Regions from separate parts of the Homo sapiens genome. Here region 2 is linked to region 1. Evidence: fine-mapped expression QTL. Tissue or cell type: whole blood. Region 1 holds a variant in brackets; the other region holds the start of a gene. All regions are shown on one strand. Distances are from middle to middle.

Region 1 (6,754 bases):
ACAGTACAATGTACATACGTTTATAACATTGATCCCACTGTACTGTATTCTCTGGTTTGCCTTTCCTCACTAGAATGTAAGCTCCTCAGAAGGCAGTGAGACCATGCTTTATATTACCCTTGCACTCCTAGTTTCCGGCAGTGTTGACTCAAACATTTGTTGAGTAACTGAGCAAATAAAGAAAAATAGAAAAGACAGGAGAAGGAAGAGGTAGGCTAGGGGAAGATAATTTTGTTTTTAAACATTAAGTTTTAGGTGGCACTGGTTTAGTGGAATAGAAATGCACAAGAACAATAGAGATCAGGTCTGCATGTATTGACTTGGAAGTTATGTACATAGAAATAATGACTGAAGTTGTGAGAATAGTTTTAAAACAATCTAAATTTTAGAAAGGCATATGATTCCATGAATAAATGAATAAAAATATGACAAAATAGCTTTAGCTTATAATTCAAACATGCTTACATATGCCAATAATTTTGGTTATGCTATGATTCAGAGCACAGTTAAACAAACTTGTATTATTGTTTTAGATTATTGGGACCAAAAATAGGTAACTCTCTTGGCTCCTTATCAAATTCAAGCATTAGATCACAAGTTGATTCTCACTATATTTGATACCCAGTCACACACTGCATAATTATGTTTCAGTCAACGATGAACTACAGAAATGATGGTTGTCCCATAAGATTATAATAGAGGTAAAAAACTCCTATCACCTAGTGACTTCGTAGCCATCCTAATGGTTGTTTAAATGCAATGCACTACCTGCATTTGTGGTGATGCTGGTGTAAACAAACCCACTCCACTGTCATAAAAAAGTATAGCACATATGTTATGTGTAGTTCATAATACTTGATAATGAGAATAAATGACCGTGTTACTGATTTATGTATTTACTATACTTTTTATCGTTAGAGTGTATATCTTCTGCTTATTAAAAAAAAAAAAAAAAGTTACGATACAACAGCCTCAGGCAAGTCCTTCAGGAAGTATTCCAGAAGAAGGCATTATCATCACAGGAGATGACAGCTCCACGTGTGTTATTGCCCCTGAAGGCCTTTCAGTGGGACAAGATGTGGAGGTGAAAGTGATACTGACATTCTTTACCCAGTAAAAGCCTAGACTAATGTGTGTGTTTGTGTCTTCGTTTTTAACAAAGTTTAAAAAGTAAAATTTAAAAAAATTAACAATTTTAAAAACAGAAAAAAGCTTACAGAATAAAGATAGACAAGTATATCTCTACAGCTGTAAAGTGTGTTTGTGTTTCAAGCTAAGTATTATTACAAAAGAGTCAAAAAGTTTTTTATTTTATTTTATTTTTTTCTGAGAGGGAGTCTCGCTCTTGCTCAGACTGGAGGGCAGTGGCGCGATATTGGCTCATTGCACCCTCTGCCTCCTGGTTTCAAGGGATTCTTTTTCCTCAGCCTCCTGAGTAGCTGAGATTACAGGCGCCCGCCACCACGCCCGGCTAATTTTTGTATTTTAGTAGAAATGGGGGTTTCACCATGTTGGTCACGCTGGTCTGGAACTCCTGACCTCAAACGATCTGCCCACCTCGGCCTCCCAAAGTGCTGGGATTACAGGCGTAAGCCACCGTGCCCAGCCTCAAAAAATTTTTTAAAATGTAAGTTTATAAAGTAAAAATGTTCTTTGGGAAGTTGAGGTGGGAGGATCACTTAAGGCCAGGAGCTGAAGACAAGCCTGGGAAACATAGCAAGGCCTTGTCTCTGCTAAAAACTTTTTAAAAATTAGCTGGGCATGGTAGTGCACACCTGCAACCTAGCTACTAGGGAGGCTGAGGCAGAAGGATCACTTGAGCCCAGAGTTTGAGTTTATAGTGAGCTATAATTGCACTCCAGTCTATGCAACAGAGAAAGCAGCTATCTCTAGAATAAATAAAGTAAAAAAGTTACAGTAAACTAAGGCTAATTTATTATTGAAGAAACTTAAAAATAAATTTAGTGTAGCCTAACTGTACAGTGTTTATAAAGTCTATAGTAGTAATGTCCTAGGCCTTCACATGCACTCACCACTCATCATACTGACTCACTCAGAGCAACTTCCAGTCCTACAAGCTCCACTTATGGTAAGTGCCCTATACAGGCGTACCATGTTTTATCTTTTATACCAGATTTTTACTGTACCTTTTCTATATATAGATATACAAATACCATTGTGTTACAATTCCCTACAGTTTTCAGTACAGTAGCCTGCTGTACAGGGTGTAGCCTAGGAATAATAGGCTACTACACAGCCTCAGTGTATAGTAGGCTGTACCATCTAGGTTTGTATAAGTTCACTCTATAATGTTCACATGACAACAAAATTGCCTAATAACACATTTCTCAGAATGTATCTCTGTCATTAAGTGATGCATGACTGTACTTAGATTTTCATCAAATTTTTGCCACTTAACTATGGGTTTGCCCATTAAGTGGCATGCAGTTATATCTGGGAGTGTATAGGTATTATTTTTATTCCTGTTATGTTTTTTGTTAATA[T/G]TCTATGAATTTTAACAGACAACTTTCTTAATTTTCACGACATATAAAATGAATACCTAAAACTGAAATTTGATCTTATGAAGACCACCCTCCCCTACTCCCCAATTCTTCCTTTTTCTAGTTGGCATCTCATGGATTTAGCTTGTAGCATTCATCCCTATACACGGTCTAATTGCAATGTCCTCCTTGATGCCATTCTGGTAAAATTTAAAGGAAAACTTCACCAGCATTAATTTTTTTATTCATTAAAACAACAAACCTTGGCCAGGTGCAGTGGCTCATGCCTATAATCCCAGCACTTTGGGAGGCTGAGGTGGGCTGATCACCTGAGGTCAGGAATTTGAGAGTAGCCTGGCCAACATGGTAAAACCCTGTCTCTATTAAAAATACAAAAAAAATTAGCCAGGCATGGTGGTGCATGCCTGTAGTCCCAGCTACTCAGGAGGGTGAGGCAACAGAATCGTTTGAACCCGGGAGGCGGAGGTTGCAGTGAGCCAAGGTCACGCCACTGCACTCCAGTATGGGCAATAGAGTAAGACTCTGTCTCAAACAACAAAAAAACCAACCAATGACAAACCTTAAAAAAATAGTATCAGCCACCACTGTAGCCAGATATAATGAAAAATGTACAAAAACGATTCACATTTGTGCTACTGAGAATTTGTTGTTCTGAAAGAGCAAGTTTAAAATGTACATACCAAACAAAATTCCGATTTACTCCAGTCACACGAAGTTAGTTTTAAATTTTGCACTATAATATATGTATTCAGTTTAAGTTCGAGAATTAGAAAACAGCTCTTCTAGAAAATTTAAAAATCAATTTTACCCAATGACAGGACTAATGAGTCTTCCTAAATGATTTAATGAGGTCTTTTTAAACAAAATGTCTGCATCATATTAATGATAAGCAACTAGAAGAAAAAAAGATGTCAAACATGAGGACATAATAATGGAAAAATATAAAAAAGCTAAAATTTCCGTTAAGTGTACCACATTTCTACTTATGTATGGAGAATGGCTATTCATCTGACAGAGCAAAATGCAGCCTCCTTACCAGTCACTGTTACAACATCATCTTTACGAGCTTCAGCCATTTCCTGAACATGGACTTCTGAGTTCACATCAACCTCTTTCCCTGATAACTGTAAATGAGCTTGAAGTGAAGATGGGACCTTGACAATAATAGAACCTGTAATAAATATAATGGAGAGCTTAGTAATATAAAGAAATCAAAAGTACCAGAGTCTATTATAAATTTGACTGACAGGGTAGCATTGCTCCTGAGACACTGTTTTTACTCCTCAGCATACAGTATTTATTTAAACCTTTTCCTTATTCCCAGGTGCCCAAAGTTTCCTTACTCTCGGCATTCACAGTAACTTCTGTCAAGAATATGGGTTATTAGCACATTATTAACTACTAGATCTGCTTTTGCCAATAGTCCTACACAGCTCATCCAACACCAGAAAGTGAGTAATTTACTACACATGTAGCTTATAGATAGGATTTGCCATTGAGCATTTAATATGAGCCAGACCCCTAATTACATTATGTTTTAATCCCCATATTAACTTTATGAGGTATTATTATCGCCCCGATTTTATAGATAAGAACTTGCTCAAGTTCCCACTAGTGCTCGTGCTGGAACCTAGACTCAGCTCAATAATTACAAAGCCCATGCTTTTTTTTTTATTATTATACTTTAAGTTTTAGGGTACATGTGCACAACGTGCAGGTTAGTTACATATGTATACATGTGCCATGTTGGTGTGCTGCACCCATTAACTTGTCATTTAACATTAGGTATATCTCCTAATGCTATCACTCCCCACTGCCCTGACCCCACAACAGGCCCCGGTGTGTGATGTTCCCCTTCCTGTGTCCATGTGTTCTCATTGTTCAATTCCCACCTATGAGTGAGAACATGCGGTGTTTGGTTTTTTGTCCTTGCAGTAGTTTGCTGAGAATGATGGTTTCCAGCTTCATCCATGTCCCTACGAAGGACATGAACTCATCATTTTTTATGGCTGCATAGTATTCCATGGTGTATATGTGCCACATTTTCTTAATCCAGTCTATCATTGTTGGACATTTGGGTTGGTTCCAAGTCTTTGCTATTGTGAATAGTGCCACGATAAACATACGTGTGCATGTCTTTATAGCAGCATGATTTATAATCCTTTGGGTATATACCCAGTAATGGGATGGCTGGGTCAAATGGTATTTCTAGTTCAAGATCCCTGAGGAATCGCTACACTGACTTCCACAATGTTTGAATTAGCTTACAGTCCACCCAACAGTGTAAAAGTGTTCCTATTTCTCCACATCCTCTCCAGCACCTGTTGTTTCCTGACTTTTTAATGATTGCCATTCTAACTGGTGTGAGATGGTATCTCATTGTGGTTTTGATTTGCATTTCTCTGATGGCCAGTGATCATGAGCATTTTTTCATGTGTTTTTTGGCTGCATAAATGTCTTCTTTTGAGAAGTGTCTGTTCATATCCTTTGTCCACTTTTTGATGGGGCTGTTTGTTTTTTTCTTGTAAATTTGTTTGAGTTCATTGTAGATTCTGGATATGAGCCCTTTGTCAGATGAGTAGATTGCAAAAAATTTCTCCCATTCAGTAGGTTGCCTGTTCACTCTGATGGTAGTTTCTTTTGCTGTGCAGAAGCTCTTTAGTTTAATTAGATCCCATTTGTCAATTTTGGCTTTTGTTGCCATTGCTTTTGGTGTTTTAGACATGAAGTCCTTGCCCATGCCTATGTCCTGAATGGTATTGCCTAGGTCTTCTTCTAGGGATTTTATGGTTTTAGGTCTAACATTTAAGTCTTTAATCCATCTTGAATTAATTTTTGTATAAGGTGTAAGGAAGGGATCCAGTTTCAGGTTTCTACATATGGCTAGCCAGTTTTCCCAGCACCATTTATTAAATAGGGAATCCTTTCCCCATTGCTTGTTTTTGTCAGGTTTGTCAAAGATCAGATGGTTGTAGATATGCGGCGTTATTTCTGAGGGCTCTGTTCTGTTCCATTGGTCTATATCTCTGTTTTGGTACCAGTACCATGCTGTTTTGGTTACTGTAGCCTTGTAGTACAGTTTGAAGTCAGGTAGCGTGATGCCTCCAGCTTTGTTCTTTTGGCTTAGGATTGACTTGGCGATGCGGGCTCTTTTTTGGTTCCATATGAACTTTAAAGTAGTTTTTTCCAATTCTGTGAAGAAAGTAATTGGTAGCTTGATGGGGATGGCATTGAATCTATAAATTACCTTGGGCAGTATGGCCATTTTCACGATATTGATTCTTCCTACCCATGAGCATGGAATGTTCTTCCATTTGTTTGTATCCTCTTTTATTTCATTGAGCAGTGGTTTGTAGTTCTCCTTGAAAAGGTCCTTCACGTCCCTTGTAAGTTGAATTCCTAGGTATTTTATTCTCTTTGAAGCAATTGTAAATGGGAGTTCACTCATGATTTAGCTCTCTGTCTGTTATTGGTGTATAAGAATGCTTGTGATTTTTGCACATTGATTTTGTATCCTGAGACTTTGCTGAAGTTGCCTATCAGCTTAAGGAGATTTTGGGCTGAGACAATGGGGTTTTCTAGATATACAATCATGTCATCTGCAAACAGGGACAATTTGACTTCCTCTATTCCTAATTGAATACCCTTTATTTCCTTCTGCTGCCTGATTGCCCTGGCCAGAACTTTCAATACTATGTTGAAGAGGTGTGGTGAGAGAGGGCATCCCTGTCTTGTGCCAGTTTTCAAGGGGAATGCTTCCAGTTTTTGCCTGTTCAGTATGATATTGGCTGTGGGTTTGTCGTAGATAGCTCTTATTATTTTGAGATACGTCCCATCAATACCTAATTTATTGAGAGTTTTTAGCATGAAGCGTTGTTGAATTTTGTCAAGGCCTTTTCTGCATCTATTGAGATAATCATATGGTTTTTGTCGTTGGTTCTGTTTATATGCTGGATTATGTTTATTGATTTGCATATGTTGAACCAGCCTTGCATCCCAGGGATGAAGCCCACTTGATCATGGTGGATAAGCTTCTTGATGTGCTGCTGGATTTGGTTTGCCAGTATTTTATTGAGGATTTTTGCATCGATGTTCATCAGGAATATTGGTCTAAAATTCTCTTTTTTTGTGTGTCTCTGCCAGGCTTTGGTATCAGGATGATGCTGGCCTCATAAAATGAGTTAGGAAGGATTCCCTCTTTTTCTATTGATTGGAATAGTTTCAGAAGGAAT
Region 2 (8,486 bases), 570 kb before region 1:
TGCTTCGGGCCCGCGGTGCTCGGGGCCTGGTGTGGGGCGAGTAGAGACTTCCCCAGCCTGGACGGGCGTGGGTTCTGGGTCAGCTTCTTTTACCTCAATTTTGTTTGCAATAAATGCTCTATAGCCAAAGCCAGCAGGTCCTGAGTGTGTGCATGCATGCGTGTGTGCGCACTTGTGTGTGTGTGTGCCCCCCCCCACTTCCTGCATCAGAGCAAGAGGGGGTTCCATGGGCTCATCGGCTCCCATTTGATAACTGAAGAACAGGCCACAGCCAGGCATGGAGGAGCCCACGGTACTGGGCTGTGCGGCCTCCACATGCCCTACACTGATCTCCCTGCCATGCCAGAGGCTGTCACCCCAGAGCACCAGCTGTCACCTTTGTGGCCCTGGGGTTGTGGTTCACAAAATGCCATTCACTTAGGATTGGAGCTGCTGTCTCTGTTTTACTGATGTGGAAACAGGTTCAAAGGTGCAATGACTTGAACCAGGCATGGTGACGCATGCCTGTTATCCCAGCTGCTCAGAAGGTCGAGACAGGAGGCTCACTGTAGTCCAGACATTTGAGACCAGCCTGAGCAAAATTGCAAGACCTCATCTCTAAAAAAAAAATTAGGCCAGGTGCAGTGGCTCACGCCTCTAATCCTAGCACTTTTGGGAGGCTGAGACAGGTGGATCACCTGAGGTCAGGAATTTGAGACCAGCTTGGCCAACATGGCAAAACATCGTCTCTACTGAAAATACGAAAATTAGCCAGGCGTGGTGGCATGCAGCTGTAATCCCAGCTACTCAGAAGGCTGAGGCAGGAGAATCATTCGAACCTGGGAGGTGGAGGTTGCAGTGAGCCAAGGTCGTGCCACTGCACTCCAGCCTGAGCCACAGAGCGAGATTCCGTCTCAAAAAAATAAATAAATAAGCCAGGCATGGTGGCACCTGTCTGTAGTCCCAGCGGTCGGGAGGCTGAGGCGGGAGGATCGCTTGAGCCCAGGAGCTCAAGGCTGCAGTGAGCTATGATTGCACCACTGCACTCCAGCCTGGGCAACAGAGCAAGATCCCATCTGTAAAATCATAATAAAAAGAGACAGATTGAATGCTTGGCTAGGTAGGTGGAATCCAGGCCAGGGTTGATCTGACACCATTCTCAAAGTTCTAATTCTTCCTCCTCTTGGAAGGAGGATCAGATATCCCCAGTCAAGATCTTGCTGCTTGTCCGGGAGGAGTAGTTTGGGCCTGGGACCAGAGGGGGACGGTAGGGCCACCTCATTCATGGCTGTGGAAAGCAGAGGCACTTTGGCCTTGGTGAGCCCCTTTCTCTGTTAAACCTATTTTACAACATGTTGGTATAAAGATGAATATATTAATGTATACTAGAGGATTTTCTCTCACCTAAAGGTTCATTTTTTTCCCTTCTGATTTTAAAAGAAATTAAAAATGTATGTCAGCTCTTATAGTGTGGGCCCAGGGCACTGTGCCTAATGGTAAGTTGGTCCAGGGTAAAAAGGGTAGTGAGGTCTCTCTAGAAGACCCCAGTGTTGGCCGGGTACAGTGGCTCAGGCCTGTCATCCCAGCACTTTGGGAGGCTGAGGCGGGAGGATCACAAGGTCAGGAGTTCGAGACCAGCCTGGCCAACGTGGTGAAACCCCCTCTACTAAAAATACAAAAATTAGCTGGGCATGGTGGTGTGCACCTACAATTCCAGCTAACTTGGGAGGCTGAGGCAGGAGAATTGCTTGAACCCGGAAGGCAGAGGTTGCAGTGAGCCGAGATCACGCCACTGTACTCCAGCCTGGCGACAGAGCAAGACTCCGTCTCAAAAAATATATATAAAAACAAAACCATGAGATGCCACACTACACCCATTACGATGGCTATACTAAAACAAAAAGCAGTGTTGGAGAGGATGTCGAGAAATGGGACCCTCATCCACTGCTACTGGGAATGTAAAATGCAGCCACTTTGGCAAACAGAACCTCAGAAAGCAGCATTAGCATATGACCACAGTTCCACTCCTAGGTACATTCTCAAGAGAATTGAAAATGTGCCCACAGAAGCCTGCGCACGGATGCTCATGGCAGCATTATTTACAGTAGCCCCACAGTGGAAAAAAACAAATTCTGCATCCACTGATGAATGAAAGTGTGATACGTTCACAGGATGGAATATTACTCAACTGTGAAAAGGAATGAAGCAATCACAGTCGAGGAGGAACCTTGAAAAAGTAACAAAAGCCAGACACAAAAGGTCACATGTTGTGTGACTGCATCCTATGAAATGTCCATTACGGGCAAAACCATGGAAACAAGAAGTAGCTTAGTCGTCACTGGGGACGGGAGAATGGAGAGTTACCGTTTAATGGGTGTAGTGTTTCGTTTTGGGGAAGTAAGAAGGTTCTGGAATTGGTGATGGTTGCACAACCTTGTTGATATACTAAAAGCTGTTGGGCGCTGTGGCTCATGCCTGTAATCTGGGCACTTTGGGAGGCTGAGGCAGGAGGATCCCTTGAGCCAGGAGTTCAAGACCAGGCTGGGCAACACAGTGAGACCCTGTCTCTACAAGAAATATATTTTTATTATATTTTTTTTGAGACAGAGTCTCACTCTGTCATCCACGCTGTAGTGCGGTGGTGCGATCTCAGCTCACTGCAACCTCCGCCTCCCGGGTTCAAGTCATTCTCCTGCCTCAGCCTCCCGAGTACTTGGGATTACAAGCACGTTCCACCACACCCGGCTAATTTTTGTAATTTTAGTCGAGACAGGGTTTCACCATGTTCGCCAGGCTGGTCTCGAACTCATGACCTCAAGTGACCTGCCCACCTCGGCCTCCCAAAGTGCTGGGATTACCGCCGTAAGTCACTACACCCAGCCTCAAAAACTATATTTTTAAAAATTAGCAGCTGGGCGCAGTGGCTCATGCCTGTAATCCCAGCACTTTGGGAGGCCAAGGCAGGTAGATCGCGAGGTCAGGCGTTCGAGACCAGCCTGGCCAAGTTGGTGAAACCTCATCTCTACTAAAAATACAAAAATTAGCTGGGCATGGTGGTAGGTGCCTGTAGTCCCAGCTACTAGGGAGGCTGAGGCAGAAGAATTGCTTGAACCCAGGAGGTGGAGGTTGCAGTGAGCAGAGATCACGCCATTGCACTCCAGCCTGGGCGACAGGGTGAGACTCCATGTCTCAAAAAAAAAAAAAAATAGCCAGGCACGGTGGCTCACGCCTGTAATCCCAATACTTTAGGAGGCCAAGGCAGGAGATTTGCTTGATCCTCCCAGGAGTTAGAGATCAGCCTGGGCAACATAGCAAGATCCTGTTTCTATAAAAAATACATTTTTAAAAATTGGCCAGCCGGGCGCAGTGGCTCACACCTGCAATCCCAGCGCTTTGGGAGGCTGAGGTGGGTGGATCACCTGAGGTCAGGAGTTCGAGACCAGCCTCACCAACGTGGAGAAACCCTATCTCTACTAAAAATACAAAATTAGACAGGTGTGGTGGCACATGCCTGTAATCCCAGCTACTCAGGAGGCTGAGGCAGGAGAATCACTTGAACCCAGGAGGTGGAGGTTGCGGTGAGCCAAGATCGAGCCATTGTACTCCAGCCTGGGCAACAAGAGTGAAAACTCCGTTTCAAAAAAAACAAAAAAAAAATTGGCGGGGGTGCCAGGCACGGTGGCACATGCCTGTAATCCCAGCACTTTGGGAGGCCAAGGCGGGTGGATCACTTGAGATCAGGAATTTGAGACCAGCCAAGCCAACATGGTGAAACCCCGTCCCTACTAAAAATACAAAAATTAGCTGGCCGTGGGGCACATGCCTGTAATCCCAGCTACTTGGGAGGCTGAGGCAGGAGAATCGCTTGAACCCAGGAGGCGGAGGTTGCAGTGAGCCCAGATCACGCCACTGCACTCCAGCCTGGACAACAAAGGAGACTCCATCTTAAAAAAAAATTAATTAAATAAATTTTAAAAATTAGCCGGAGCATGGTGTTGTGTGCCTGTGGTTCCAGCTACTGGGAAGGCTGAGGTGGGAGGATTAACTGAACCTGGGAGTTTGAGGCTCCAGTTAGCTGTGAACTGACCTCCCTGGGTGACATATATATATTTAAGCCACTGAGCTGTGAAGGTTGTGAAGGTATGTGAGTTATGTCTTGAAAAATACACACATAGTGAGCGCCAAATCCCGGGAGTAGTGTTTAAGTGGCGGGCTTGTCAGCTGTCAAGGGCTCTGCAGCCCTTTCTCTGAATCCAAGTTCTTCTTCCTGTGGACAGGGAACCCAGGCTGCGAACTGGGAGGATGTGGCCTCGTGGGGGGCAGGGCCAGCGTGCTGTGATGGGGATGGGGCTGGGCAGGTTGGGGCTGCCTGCTACTCCCCACTCCTGACTCTGGGTGGGGACAGAAGGCAGAGGGAGGCTCCTGGCACCTGGGGCACAGGAATCTCAGGCATGTGGTCCTGAGCCTGTTTCCAAAAGCCAGACCCTCCTCCCCAGGGCGGAGAGACTGGGAGGGGCCCCAATCCAGGCTCCGGGATGGCCTGGCTGGCATCTGGGGTTCCAGTGGCCCCTCTCCCTTGGCCCTGGCAGTGGGGCTGGATACTGGCCTGCCTCCCACCAGAGTCCCCCCAGCTCCTCCCTGCTGTGGGCTGGCCTGGGAGGAAGGGGGTGGGGTGCACTTACATTTGCAGGTCTTTCCAGCCCCTGGGGCAGCCTGATTAACCAGCTTCTCCAGGGCCAAGCTGTTGGGGGTGAGGTGCAGCCCGAAGCAGCCAGACCAGCCCCTGAGCCTCCCGGGTGCTGGCAGCTGTCATGGGGCTACCCTGGGGGCAGCCTCACCTAGGGCTGCAGATGCTCCTCCTGGCGTTGAACTGTCTCCGGCCCAGCCTGAGCCTGGGTGAGTGGGGGTCCTGGATGGACGCGTCCAGCCAGACCCAAGGGGCTGGGGGCCCTGCTGGAGTGATTGGACCCTGGGCGCCCGCCCCCCTCCGATTGGGAGAGGCAGCCCCAGGGACCCCCACGCCCGTCTCCGTGGCTCACCTTTTGTCCCCCGTGGCCACAGAGCTGGTGCCCTACACACCACAGATAACAGCTTGGGACCTGGAAGGGAAGGTCACAGCCACCACCTTCTCCCTGGAGCAGCCGCGCTGTGTCTTCGATGGGCTTGCCAGCGCCAGCGATACCGTCTGGCTCGTGGTGGCCTTCAGCAATGGTACGGGGACTGCTGTGGGGCCTGGGTGAGGGTGACGGCTGAGGAGAGTGGTGGGCCCTAGGAGCCCCTCACCAGCAAGCGCCTTCAATGATTGAGCCCCTGTGGGGGCCTTTGGGAGAGTAGGTGTGGATGAATTGGGCTTTATCTAAAGGGGTAATATGTGTATTGAAAAATACACACGTAGTGAACACCAAATCCCGGGAGTAGTGCTAGTGGTGGGTTTGTCAGCTGTCAAGGGCTCTGCAACCCTTTCTCTGAATCCAAGTAGTTCTTCCTTTGGACAGGGAACCGAGGCTGCGACCTGGGAGGATGTGGCCTCCTGTGGGGCAGGGCCGGTGCACTGCAATGGGGCTGGGGCTGGGGCTGGGCAGGTTGGGACTGCCCGCTGCTCCCCACTCCTGGCTCTGGGTGGGGACAAAAGGCCAGAGGGAAGCTCCCCTTCAGGGGTAACAAAGTCGACTGGGTCTGGACTATCTCTGGGGGCCCTGAGGGAGGAGGTGGCATGGGGGGTCAGGGCTGGAGACTGGGCGAACACAGAACCCCCACTCATAAGGACAAAGCTGCTTTCTCCCCTCCCACCTCCATCTGTTCTCTCCTCCTGCAGCCTCCAGGGGCTTCCAGAACCCGGAGACACTGGCTGACATTCCGGCCTCCCCACAGCTGCTGACCGATGGCCACTACATGACGCTGCCCCTGTCTCCGGACCAGCTGCCCTGTGGCGACCCCATGGCGGGCAGCGGAGGCGCCCCCGTGCTGCGGGTGGGCCATGACCACGGCTGCCACCAGCAGCCCTTCTGCAACGCGCCCCTCCCTGGCCCTGGACCCTATCGGTGGGTGGTCCCCACCGGAGCCCTGGGACTGGGGCTGTGCTTGGGGCGGACGCATTGCTGGGACCAGGGATGCTCTCTCTAGCATCTTTCCAGGGAGGGGTCCCCGGCCCCGGTCCTCCCCTTTGCAAGCCCGGGCTCCTTCCACTGTAGAGTCAGCAACAGTGCTCACCCCCGCTGGGGCCGGGCAAGGCCCAGGAGGAGCAGGTGGGCACCTTGGGGAGGCGGGATCTTAGTCAAGGTGGGAGGGGGCAGCTTCCCCAAAGTCTAGGCCCCTGTCCCCCACCACGGGCAGATCTGGCAGGAAACTCGGGGGCCGAGTTCAGACCCAGTCTCGTCGGTATTAGGCAGGGAGCAGGAGAGGTGGCTCCTACCCGCTCTTACAGATGAGGAAACTGAGGCACAGGAGGTCAAGTGGCCTGCCAACATCGGGGTGGAGCCGGGATGGGGAAGCAGGCAGTGTGTCCAGGTCAGGACTGTCCGGACACAGGAGGAGGCGGGGTGACCTCAGGAAGACCAGGCCCAGGGGAAGCCGGGAAGGCAGGGCGTGGTGAGGCTGGAACAGCACCCCGCTCCGCCCAGCCCCCTTCTGCCCTCTCACCCACTCTCCAGGTCCACCCTCTGCCCTCCCCGCTGCCTCACCCTGGCTCAGCCTTCCAGCTCCATGCCCCGCCCCATCCCCCGCAGCCACTCTTTTCAATGCCAACCTGCCAGGTCCTTCCCCGCTTCCCAGGCCTTGCAGAGCTCCCAGCCCTGCAAAGAGACAAACCGAGGCCCTCTGCGGGGCTCCTGGTGCCCTGGGTCCTCAGGCTGCTGGTGATTGAGCCCCCTGCCCCCGGCTACTGCTGCCCCTCTGGGAGGCCTGTGACCCCTGCCCCATGTGCCCTGCTAAGCCACCTTCACCTGCTCTTTTGGCTTGTGACATTTAGGAACCAGGGCCCCTAAACCAGCATCCCCGGCCCAGGTCTGGTGTCTGGAGAGCAATTGCTCGGGGGGATGAGGGGTGGTGGCACAGGCCAAGTGGCTGGAGACATCTCAGGGGATTCTCAGAGCAGGGCCAGGCCATGGGCTGCTGCTCTTGACGGGCACCCCCACTCCACATCCATGGGAGGGCCCCAGAGGAGCTGCCTGGGGCTTGGCCCTGCCCAGGGTGGTCCCAGCCTCTGAAGCTCTCCCCTCCTCCCCCACCACCTCCCATCCCCAGGGTGAAGTTCCTCCTGATGGACACCAGGGGCTCACCCAGGGCTGAGACCAAGTGGTCAGACCCCATCACTCTCCACCAAGGTAGCGCTGGGCAGGAGGGGCGCTGCCCCCAGTGGACTCACGATCTCTCTGGGCCGCCTCTGCTGAGCTGGCCACACCCCTGCTCCCACAGGGCTGGGGGCCTGGAGGCCATGTCCAAGTCGGGCCCAGCCCCCAACAGAACCTCATGCTGGGGGAGTGGGGCACCCAGCCAGCCCCCTCGGCAGGGGCACCATCTCGGCCCATCCGCAAGCGTTTGCCACATTGTGGGCACAGACAGCCTCCCCCCTCCTGTAGGGAGTCAGCCTGTGTCAGCCCCTGCTGGGAGGGAGGAAGAGGGTGTGGAGGAGGTCAGGGTCAGGGTCGGGGCTGGCTGGGGAGGCAGCCAGCTTGAGTTCTGAGCAGACCCCAAGGGGCAAGCGTGAATGTACCAAGCCCAGAAGTTTCGAGTGCCACGGCCCAGGTGTCGGGGGTGGGGGTCTCCTGGGAGACGGCTTCAGAGGTCAGGGGGTGTGGGGTGGAAGTCTTGTCATCTGAAGGCCTTGACTGCTGGGCTCCAGGGAGCAGGGCAGTGGATGAGCACGTGGGTGGGAGCAGCCTAGAAGGTAGGAGCAGGGCGGAGGCTGTGGTCCAGGCTGGCAGAGAACAGATGCTGTGCCGTCCCGAGGAAGAGGGACGGGGGGTGGGATCAGGGGGGCGCCTGGGGATATGAGACAGCCAGACCTTGAAGCTAGGCCAGCGTGGGTGGGGAGGGAGCGAGGGAGGAGATGACAGCCAGCCCTGGGGTCGAGGGGCAGCCCCTCTGAGCAGCTGGTGTGTGTGCAGGGAAGACCCCCGGATCCATCGACACCTGGCCAGGGCGGCGAAGTGGCAGCATGATCGTCATTACCTCCATCCTCTCTTCTCTGGCCGGCCTCCTACTCTTGGCCTTCTTGGCAGCCTCTACCATGCGCTTGTGAGTGGGGACACCCCCTCGGGCCCCTCTCCCACCCAGAACCCCTCTGTTGAATTGGTCCCAGTGTCTGGAAGCCCTCCAGGCATGCCATGGGGTTTATTTTATTTTTGGTAGAGACAGGGACTTGCTATGTTGCCCAGGCTGGTCTGGAACTGCTGGGCTCAAGCGATCCTCCCGTCTCGGCCTCCCAAAGTATTAGGATTACAGGTGTGAGCCACCTTGCCGAGCCCCGTGGTTTCGAGCTGGGCAGCGCCCCTCCCAGGGCCTGTGCA

The links. PIP is the estimated chance that this variant, and not a neighbour inherited with it, causes the effect.
Region 2: it holds the start of UPK3B, and the variant in region 1 is fine-mapped to the expression of UPK3B in whole blood (TOPMed, PIP above 0.99).

What each region holds. Positions count from the first base shown.
Region 1 is chr7:77,080,329-77,087,082 of GRCh38, forward strand. It overlaps the pseudogene FAM185BP. Among named protein-coding and RNA genes, the nearest start is that of SPDYE18, 21 kb to the left of the region's middle. The variant T/G (reference allele first, on the strand shown) is at 2,505.
Region 2 is chr7:76,505,863-76,514,348 of GRCh38, forward strand. It overlaps UPK3B (uroplakin 3B), which reads left to right and starts at 4,690. Exons shown (of 6, transcript NM_001347684.2): 1 at 4,690-4,875; 2 at 5,041-5,190; 3 at 5,795-6,020; 4 at 7,222-7,301; 5 at 8,085-8,214. The coding sequence starts at 4,791. It overlaps LOC124901675 (a long non-coding RNA gene), which reads right to left and starts at 4,871. Exons shown (of 2, transcript XR_007060388.1): 1 at 4,662-4,871; 2 at 2,319-4,246. DTX2 (deltex E3 ubiquitin ligase 2) reads left to right here. Exons shown (of 11, transcript NM_001102594.3): 11 at 1-129. RefSeq lists a silencer at 3,072-3,277 and enhancers at 4,155-4,727, 4,728-5,300, 6,054-6,705, 6,706-7,357, 7,358-8,007.